2 linked regions of the Homo sapiens genome follow. The protein of the gene in region 1 interacts with the protein of each later gene in a pairwise test. Each region holds a gene or a part of one and is shown in the gene's direction. Other genes may lie near its edges. The genes, in order: ZC3H7A and LARP4.

Evidence for each region.
Region 2: the proteins of ZC3H7A (region 1) and LARP4 interact in a two-hybrid assay, tested with the Homo sapiens proteins (one large-scale study listed by BioGRID).

Annotation. Positions count from the first base shown.
Region 1 is NC_000016.10:11,776,591-11,780,408, reverse strand, and holds part of ZC3H7A (zinc finger CCCH domain-containing protein 7A), read left to right. Parts: intron 1-1,045; coding exon 1,046-1,243; intron 1,244-3,499; coding exon 3,500-3,658; intron 3,659-3,818. UniProt on the Homo sapiens protein: May be a specific regulator of miRNA biogenesis. Binds to microRNAs MIR7-1, MIR16-2 and MIR29A hairpins recognizing the 3'-ATA(A/T)-5' motif in the apical loop.
Region 2 is NC_000012.12:50,403,646-50,407,463, forward strand, and holds part of LARP4 (la-related protein 4), read left to right. Parts: intron 1-3,818. UniProt on the Homo sapiens protein: RNA binding protein that binds to the poly-A tract of mRNA molecules. Associates with the 40S ribosomal subunit and with polysomes. Plays a role in the regulation of mRNA translation.

The DNA of each region.
Region 1 (3,818 bases):
TGGCTCACACCTGTAATCCCAGCATTTTCGGAGGCTGAAGCAGGCGGATCACTTGAGACCAGGAGTTTGAGACCAGCCTGGGCAACATGGCGAAACCCTGTCTCTACTAAAAATACAAAAATTAGCCGAGTGTGGTGGCAGGTGCCTGTAATCCCAGCTACTCGGGAGGCTAAGACACGAGAATCACTTGAACTCAGGAGGTGAAGTCGCAGAGAGCCGAGATCGTGCCACTGCACTCCAGCCTGGGTGCCAGAGTAAGACTCTGTCTCAAAAAAAAAAAAGAAAAGAAAAAAAAGAACTAAACTAAAGCGTGATAGAAATAATGAAGGAAAATGACAAACTTTTATACATGCTAAAAGAATGTGTATACTTACTTGATAAGAAAAAAGTTTAACATCCCCCTCCCCCCAAATCAGTAAATGACCTGAGCAATTTACAGAAAAAGAAATACAAGGGGTCCGTAAAAATGTGGAATAGTTCAACTTCACTGGTAAAGACATGCACATACAAAGAGGATACCATTAAAAAAAATAAATAAACACAAAACGATACCATTTTCCACCTAGAAATTGGTAGATTTTACATATATGTGCACGGGTACCCACACACGTGTACACACACACACACTACCTAGTGTGTATGGGTGCTATAAAGTAAACCACTAGAAACATTTTTCATCATGGCCTTTTTGGAAGGCAATTTGGAAATACTGCTCAAAAGCCTTAAACTATTCATTCTCTTTGACTTGGGGCTTCCACTTGGTTTCTCTAGCGGGCACAGAATTGGAGATGTGAACAAATATTTATAAGGTACTTTGCTGCATTTTTCTTAATAGTGAGAAATTGAATTTCCCCTTGAAAAAGCAAGCAAGATTCAATCCCTAGCTGAGATAGCAGTGACTTGGGCTGCATCTCACAATTTCTTAGAGCAATGCTGCTGTTCTGTCACATTGTTTCCTGTGAAGTTTTAGGTATAAAAATTAAAATTTACTTATACCATATCTTGTTTGATAAAAGGCTTCAAGTGGTAACTTTCTTTTTTTTAGGTATATTTGCGTGCTCTCGTGAGAAATCTTTTTAATGAAGGAAATGACGTTTATCGGGAACATGATTGGAACAACTCGATAAGCCAGTACACGGAAGCCTTGAATATAGCTGATTATGCAAAATCTGAAGAAATTTTAATCCCCAAAGAAATAATTGAAAAACTATATATAAATCGTATTGCCTGCTATTCTAATATGGTGAGTTGTAATTTTTAAAATGATGTTTCTAGAGTGAAAAGAATTTTTTCAATGACTTAGTACATTAATAAAAAGTCAATTTCTTAAGTTTTTAAGAAAGTCATATTACCTGCTTTTGGAGTGGCTTGAGGCTTTTAAAAATTAGCTTTGGATTGGCCGGGCACGGTGGCTCACGCCTGTAATCCCAGCACTTTGGGAGGCCAAGGTGGGTGGATCATGAGGTTAGGAGTTTGAGACCAGCCTGGCCAATATGGTGAAACCCCGTCTCTACTAAAAATAAAAAAATTAACTGGGCATGGTGGCGTGTGCATGTAGTCCCAGCTGCCCGGGAGGCTGAGGCAGGAGAATCGCTTGAACCCAGGAGGCGAAGCTTGCAGTGAGCCGAGATTGTGCCACTGCACTCCAGCCTGGGCGACAGAGCAAGACTCCGTCTCAAAAAATAAAATAAAATAAAAAAATAAAAATTAGCTTTGGACAGAAGGTTAGGGATTTAAGAAATAATTTGTTTCTTAGTTATTGGTCCTTGATGATTCCCATTTGAGTATGGCTTTTGAAGGTGTGTCTGCTTATAAAAAAGTCATCCAGGGAAGATACAGGTCTTCACAGGTCAGTGTGTCTTTCAGGTATCCCTGTTCACAGTTAACATCTTAGTCAAGATCCAGTTGATCTTGTAAAACACTCTTGGTAAAAAACACTCTTACGAGTGTTTTTTTTTTTTTTTTTTTTTTTGAGACAGTGTCTCGCTCTGTCACCCAGGCTGGAGTGCAGTGGCACGATCTCGGCTCACTGCAACCTCCGCCTCCTGGGTTCAAGCAATTTTCCTGCCTCGGCCTCCCGAGTAGCTGGGACTACAGGCGCATGCCGCCGTGCCCAGCAAATTTTTTGTATTTTGTTAGAGATGGGGTTTCACTGTGTTGCCCAGGCTGTTCTCGATCTCCTGAATTCAGGCAATCTGCCCGCCTCAGCCTCCCAAAGTGCTAGGATTACAGGCGTGAGCCACCGTGCCTGGCGAGTGTTTTTTTAAATCAAGAAATAGTAATTAGTCTTCAAAGGAATTCACACTAGATTTTCACATTTTTAAGCTTAAAAGCTTTTGAAGTGCTTTTTTTTCTTTTTTTCCTTTTAAAACTTTTTTTTTTTTTTTTGAGACAAGAGTTTCACTCTTGTTGCCCAGGCTGGAGTGCAATGGCACAATCTTGGCTCACCGTAACCTCCGTCTCCCGGGTTCAAGAGATTCTCCTGCCTCAGCTTCCCGAGTAGCTGAGATTACAGGCATGTACCACCACACCTGGCTAATTTTGTATTTTTAGTAGAGACGGGGTGTCTCCATGTCGGTCAGGCTGGTCTCGAACTCCTGACCTCAGGTGATCTGCCCGCCTCAGCCTCCCAAAGTGCTGGGATTACAGGCATGAGCCACCACGCCTGGCCACCTTTTTTAAATTTTTGAGATGGAGTGTCACTCTGTTGCCCAGGCTGTAATGCAGTGGCACAATCTCGGCTTACTGTATCCTCTGTCTCCTGGGTTCAAGTGATTTTCCTGCTTCAGCCTCCCGAGTGCTGGGATTATAGGCACCCGCCACCACGCCTGGCTAATTTTTGTATTTTTAGTAGAGATGGGGTTTTTACCATGTTGGCCAGGCTGGTCTCGAACTCCTGACCTCAGGTGATCCACCCACCTCGGCCTCCCAAAGTGCTGGGACTACAGCTGTGAGGCACTGTGCCCAACCTGAAGTGCTTTTAATTTTCACTGTGGATACTCGGTAAAATATAACCATGAATTTAAGAAAAATATCCGTGTTGTCACCTAGCTCTTTGTTAAAGAGCATTCATTGTTTATTTATTTTGTTTTGGGTAATATATTCCTTATCAGTTAGCTGTTTGGAGTTACGTTTCTGTTTGACATCTTAATGTGCTCCAGCAAAGGGTAACTACAGAGGAGCGAATAGGAGAGGGACACATGGGGACATCAGTTAGGTCTGGAAAGCTTTATTTCTTGAAGATCTGGGGACTTTCTGACCAAATATTAGCATTTGTCTGACCTGGATGGTGTGTACATGGGTATTCATGATATTCTTTCTACTTTTTTGTATTTGAAATTTCATAAAATAATTTAAAAAATAAAAGTAATACTGCTAACTTGGAGTTTAGAGGGAGGGTAATAGGATGGGGTATTAATTTGTTTTTATTACAGGAAGGCCTCAGTGCAAGAAATGAATTGTTTGATTGCTGACTTTATTCTTTGGTCTTACACACCAGGGTTTCCATGATAAAGTTTTGGAGGACTGCAATATAGTCCTCAGTTTAAATGCCAGTAACTGCAAAGCTCTGTATCGGAAATCTAAGGCTTTAAGTGATTTAGGAAGATACAAAAAGGCTTACGATGCTGTAGCAAAGTGCTCCTTAGCAGTGCCTCAGGTATGGAATTTATAGTTTATTTGTTTACATCGTAACCATTTACATCATAATAAATGGCATTTAAAGAGTTAAATTTTCCAGTCATCCATCAACCTGCTTCAGTTGGGTATAAATGCTAATGAAGCAGGTGTCTTGATGGGAAACTTCCCTGTTTTGTCTA
Region 2 (3,818 bases), on another chromosome or scaffold:
AACTTGCTTGTGGATCATCTTTGGCAGGGTTAATCTGGGATCCCTGGGTCCTCTGCAGTTGTGTTCAATACCTTTTACTTATGTGTATTTTTCTGGAGAGATTCCAGCTTAACTATCCCACTAGAATCAGTAGGATAGATAATAGCAATATAACAATAACAACAGTAGTAGTATATACTTGTATCGTGCTTTGTGTCAGGAACGTTTGATGTTTTTGCATATATAGATATCTGTACATCTTAAGTCTCAATATCTCTATGAGGTGTTAGTATCCCCATTTTAGTGATAAGTAAGGCAGCTGGGCGCAGTGGCTCATGCCTGTAATCCCAGCACTTTGGGAGGCTGAGGTGGGTGGCAAATCACCTGAGGTCAGGAGTTTGAGATCAGCCTGGCCAACATGGTGAAACCCCATCTCTACTAAAAATACAAAAATTAGCCAGAGGTGGTGGCACACACCTGTAATCCTAGCTACTCGGGAGGCTAAGGTAGGAGAATCGCTTGAACCTGGGAGGCAGAGGTTGCAGTGAGCTGAGATGGCACCACTACACTCCAGCCTGGACAACAGAGTGAGACTCTGTCTCAAAAAAAAGAAACTAAGGCACATATAATTTAAACTTGCCTAAGTTTATACAGCTAGTGAACATGGAAGCTTGTATTAGAACTCATCAACCACCTACTTGTATTGGAGTAGAATATATTGCAGACAAGGAATCAATCCTATGTAAATAATACTTAGATGCAACTTTTTAAAACCTGGCCTTGGGCCCAATGTGGTGGCATGTACCTGTAGTCCCAGCTACTAGGGAGGCAGAGGCAGGAGTTTCGCTTGAGTATGGGAGGTCAAGGCTGGAATGAGCCGTGATTGTGCCACTGCATTCCAGGCCGGGTGACAGAGCAAGACCAACTATATTGACTTCAGTAGATTATTGGTTTGTTTTATTTTTTTCCTCTTGAGACCGAGTCTCGCTCTGAGACCGAGGCTAGAGGGTGGCGCAGTCTCAGCTCACTGCAACCTCCGCCTCCTGGGTTCAAGCAGTTTTTTTTTTTTTTTTTTTTTTTTGAGACGGAGTTTCCACTCTTGTTGCCCAGGCTGGAGTGCAGTGGCGCCATCTCGGCTCACTGCAACCTCCACCTCCTGGGTTCAAGTGATTCTCCTGCCTCAGCCTCCCGAGTAGCTGGGACTGTAGGCGCATGCCACCACGCCCAACTAATTTTTGTATTTTTAGTAGAGATGGGGTTTCACCATGTTGGCCAGGATGGTCTCGGTCTCTTGACCTCATGATTCGCCCACCTCGGGCTCCCAAAGTGTTGGAATTACAGGCGTGAGCCACCACACCTGGCGGGTTCAAGCAGTTCTGCCTCAGCCTCCCTAGTAGCTGGGACTTCAGGCATGTGCCACCATGCCTGGCCTTTTTTTTTTTTTTCCTGATTTTTAGTAGACACGGGTTTCACGATGTTGGCCAGGCTGGTCTCGAACTGCTGACCTCAAGTGATCCGCCCGCCTTGGCCTCCTAAAGTGCTGGGATTATAGGCGTGAGCCACCGCGCCTGGCAGATTTTTTTTCCACCTCTGTTCTGAAGGAGAAACAAACAATGTCCCTCTCTGGAAAGAGGTAAAAGTTTGGATGATTCACAAAGTCATCAAACATGACCTGCCATGAATTCTTTTACAACAAATTGTTTGTAAGTTTGAAACTGCAGTGTACTACCTTCATCTGAATGCTATCAAGTTACTTAAAACTTGTGAGCCCTAAGGAGGCAGATAGTAATTTAAAAAAATTTTTTCATTTCTCTCTTTTATTTACAGTTTTTTTTTTAATTTTTAATTTTTTGAGACACAGTCTCGTTTGCTGCAGCCTCCACCTCCCCAGCTCAAGTGATCCTCCCACCTCAGTCTCCAAAGTAGCTGGGACTATAGACATGTACCACCATGCCTGGCTAATTTTTTTCTTTTTTGGTATTTTTTGTAGAGACAGGGTTTTGCTTTTTTGCTCAAGCTGAAATTTTTGTTTAAATAAAAAAAATTAAAACTAGAGACTGGGAAGGGTGGGTATGCAGTGACTACTGAAATTGGGTTTCTGTCTCTGTTTGAGTTTTTCCCTGAAAATGAAGACAGTTGTCCCTCAGTATTTGTGGGAAATTGGTTCCAGGACCCTCTGTAGATGCCAAAAACCTTGGATGCTCAAGTCTTACATAAAAAGGCATAGTATTTGCGTAGCACCTATGCACATCTTTGTGTATATGTTAAATAATCTCTAGATTATTTATAATACCTATTAAAATGTAAATGCTTTATAAATAGTTGCTATACTGTATTATTTATAGAGTGATAAGAAAAAAGTCTCTACATTGTCAGTACAGATGCAATGATTTTTTTTTCTGAGTATTTTTGATTTGTGATTGATTGCTCCACTGATACAGAACCTATGGATATGGAATTCATGGATATGGAGGGCCAACTGTACTTACTTACTTAGGTAGCAGTTAAGTTTCATACGACCTAGGACGCTTTAATAACTCTTAAATAATTAAAACATATTTTAGGTTGGGTAACGTGTCTCATGCCTGTAATCTCAACACTTTGGGAGGCCGAGGTGGGAGGATAGCTTGAGCCCAGTAGTTCAAGACCAGCCTGGGCAACAAAGTTAGACACCCCCCACCCCCACCCCCAACCTCTACAAACAAATTTAAAAAATTAGCCAGGCCTGGTGGCATGTGTTGTGGTCCCAGCTACACTTGAGGTGGGAGGATCACTTGAGCCAGGAGATCGAGGCTGCAGTGAACCATGTTCATGACACTGCACTCCAGCCTGGATGACAGAGTGAGACCCTGCCTCAAAAAATTTTTTTAAATTATTATTTTATTATTTTTTAAGAGACAGGGTCTCACTGTGTTGTCCAGGCTGGAGTACAGTGGCTATTCACAGGTACAGTCATGGCACACCATAGCCTCAAATTCCTGGGCTCAAGCAATCTGGCCTCAGCCTCCTGAGTAGCTGGGACTACAGGCTCATGCCACCAGTTAAAAATATTTTTAATTGTGAAATACATATAACTTAAAAAGTATCATCTAACAGTTTTTTGTTTTTTTGAGAGAGAATCTTGCTCTGTTGCCCAGGCTGGAGTGCAGTTGCATGATCTCGGCTCACTGCAATGTCTGCCTCCTGGGTTCAAGTGATTCTCTCACCTCAACCTCCCCAGTATAGCTGGGACTACAGACGTACGCCACCATGCTGGCTAATTTTTGTATTTTTAGTAGAGACGAGGTTTCGCCATGTTGGCCAAGCTGGTCTCAAACTCCTAACCTCAGATCTACCTGCCTCAGCCTCCCAAAGTGCTGGGATTGCAGGCTTGAGCCACCGCGCCCAGCCCATCTTAACAGTTTTTTTGTTTGTTTTTTGAGATGGAATCTTGCTCTGTCGCCCAGGCTGGAGTACAGTGGCATGATCTCGGCTCACTGCAACCTCCGCCTCCTGGGTTCAAGCGATTCTTCTGCCTCAGCCTCCTGAGTAGCTGGGACTACAGGCGCGTACCACCACGCCTAGCTATTTTTTGTATTTTTAGTAGAGACGGAGTTTCACCATATTGGTCAGGCTGGTCTCGAACTCCTGACCTTGTGATCCACCCTCCTCGGCCTCCCAAAGTGCTGGGATTACGGGCGTGAGCCACTGCGTCTGGCCGAAGCTTTGTTTTCTTTAAGGTTTAAACTAATTTAAGAGAAGTATAACTTCTAAGTTTTCATCTCAGCCTTGTTACTAACATACTCTGATTTAGGGCAAGTCAAACAATTTATAATTATTTAAAGTTTTTTTTATAGTTG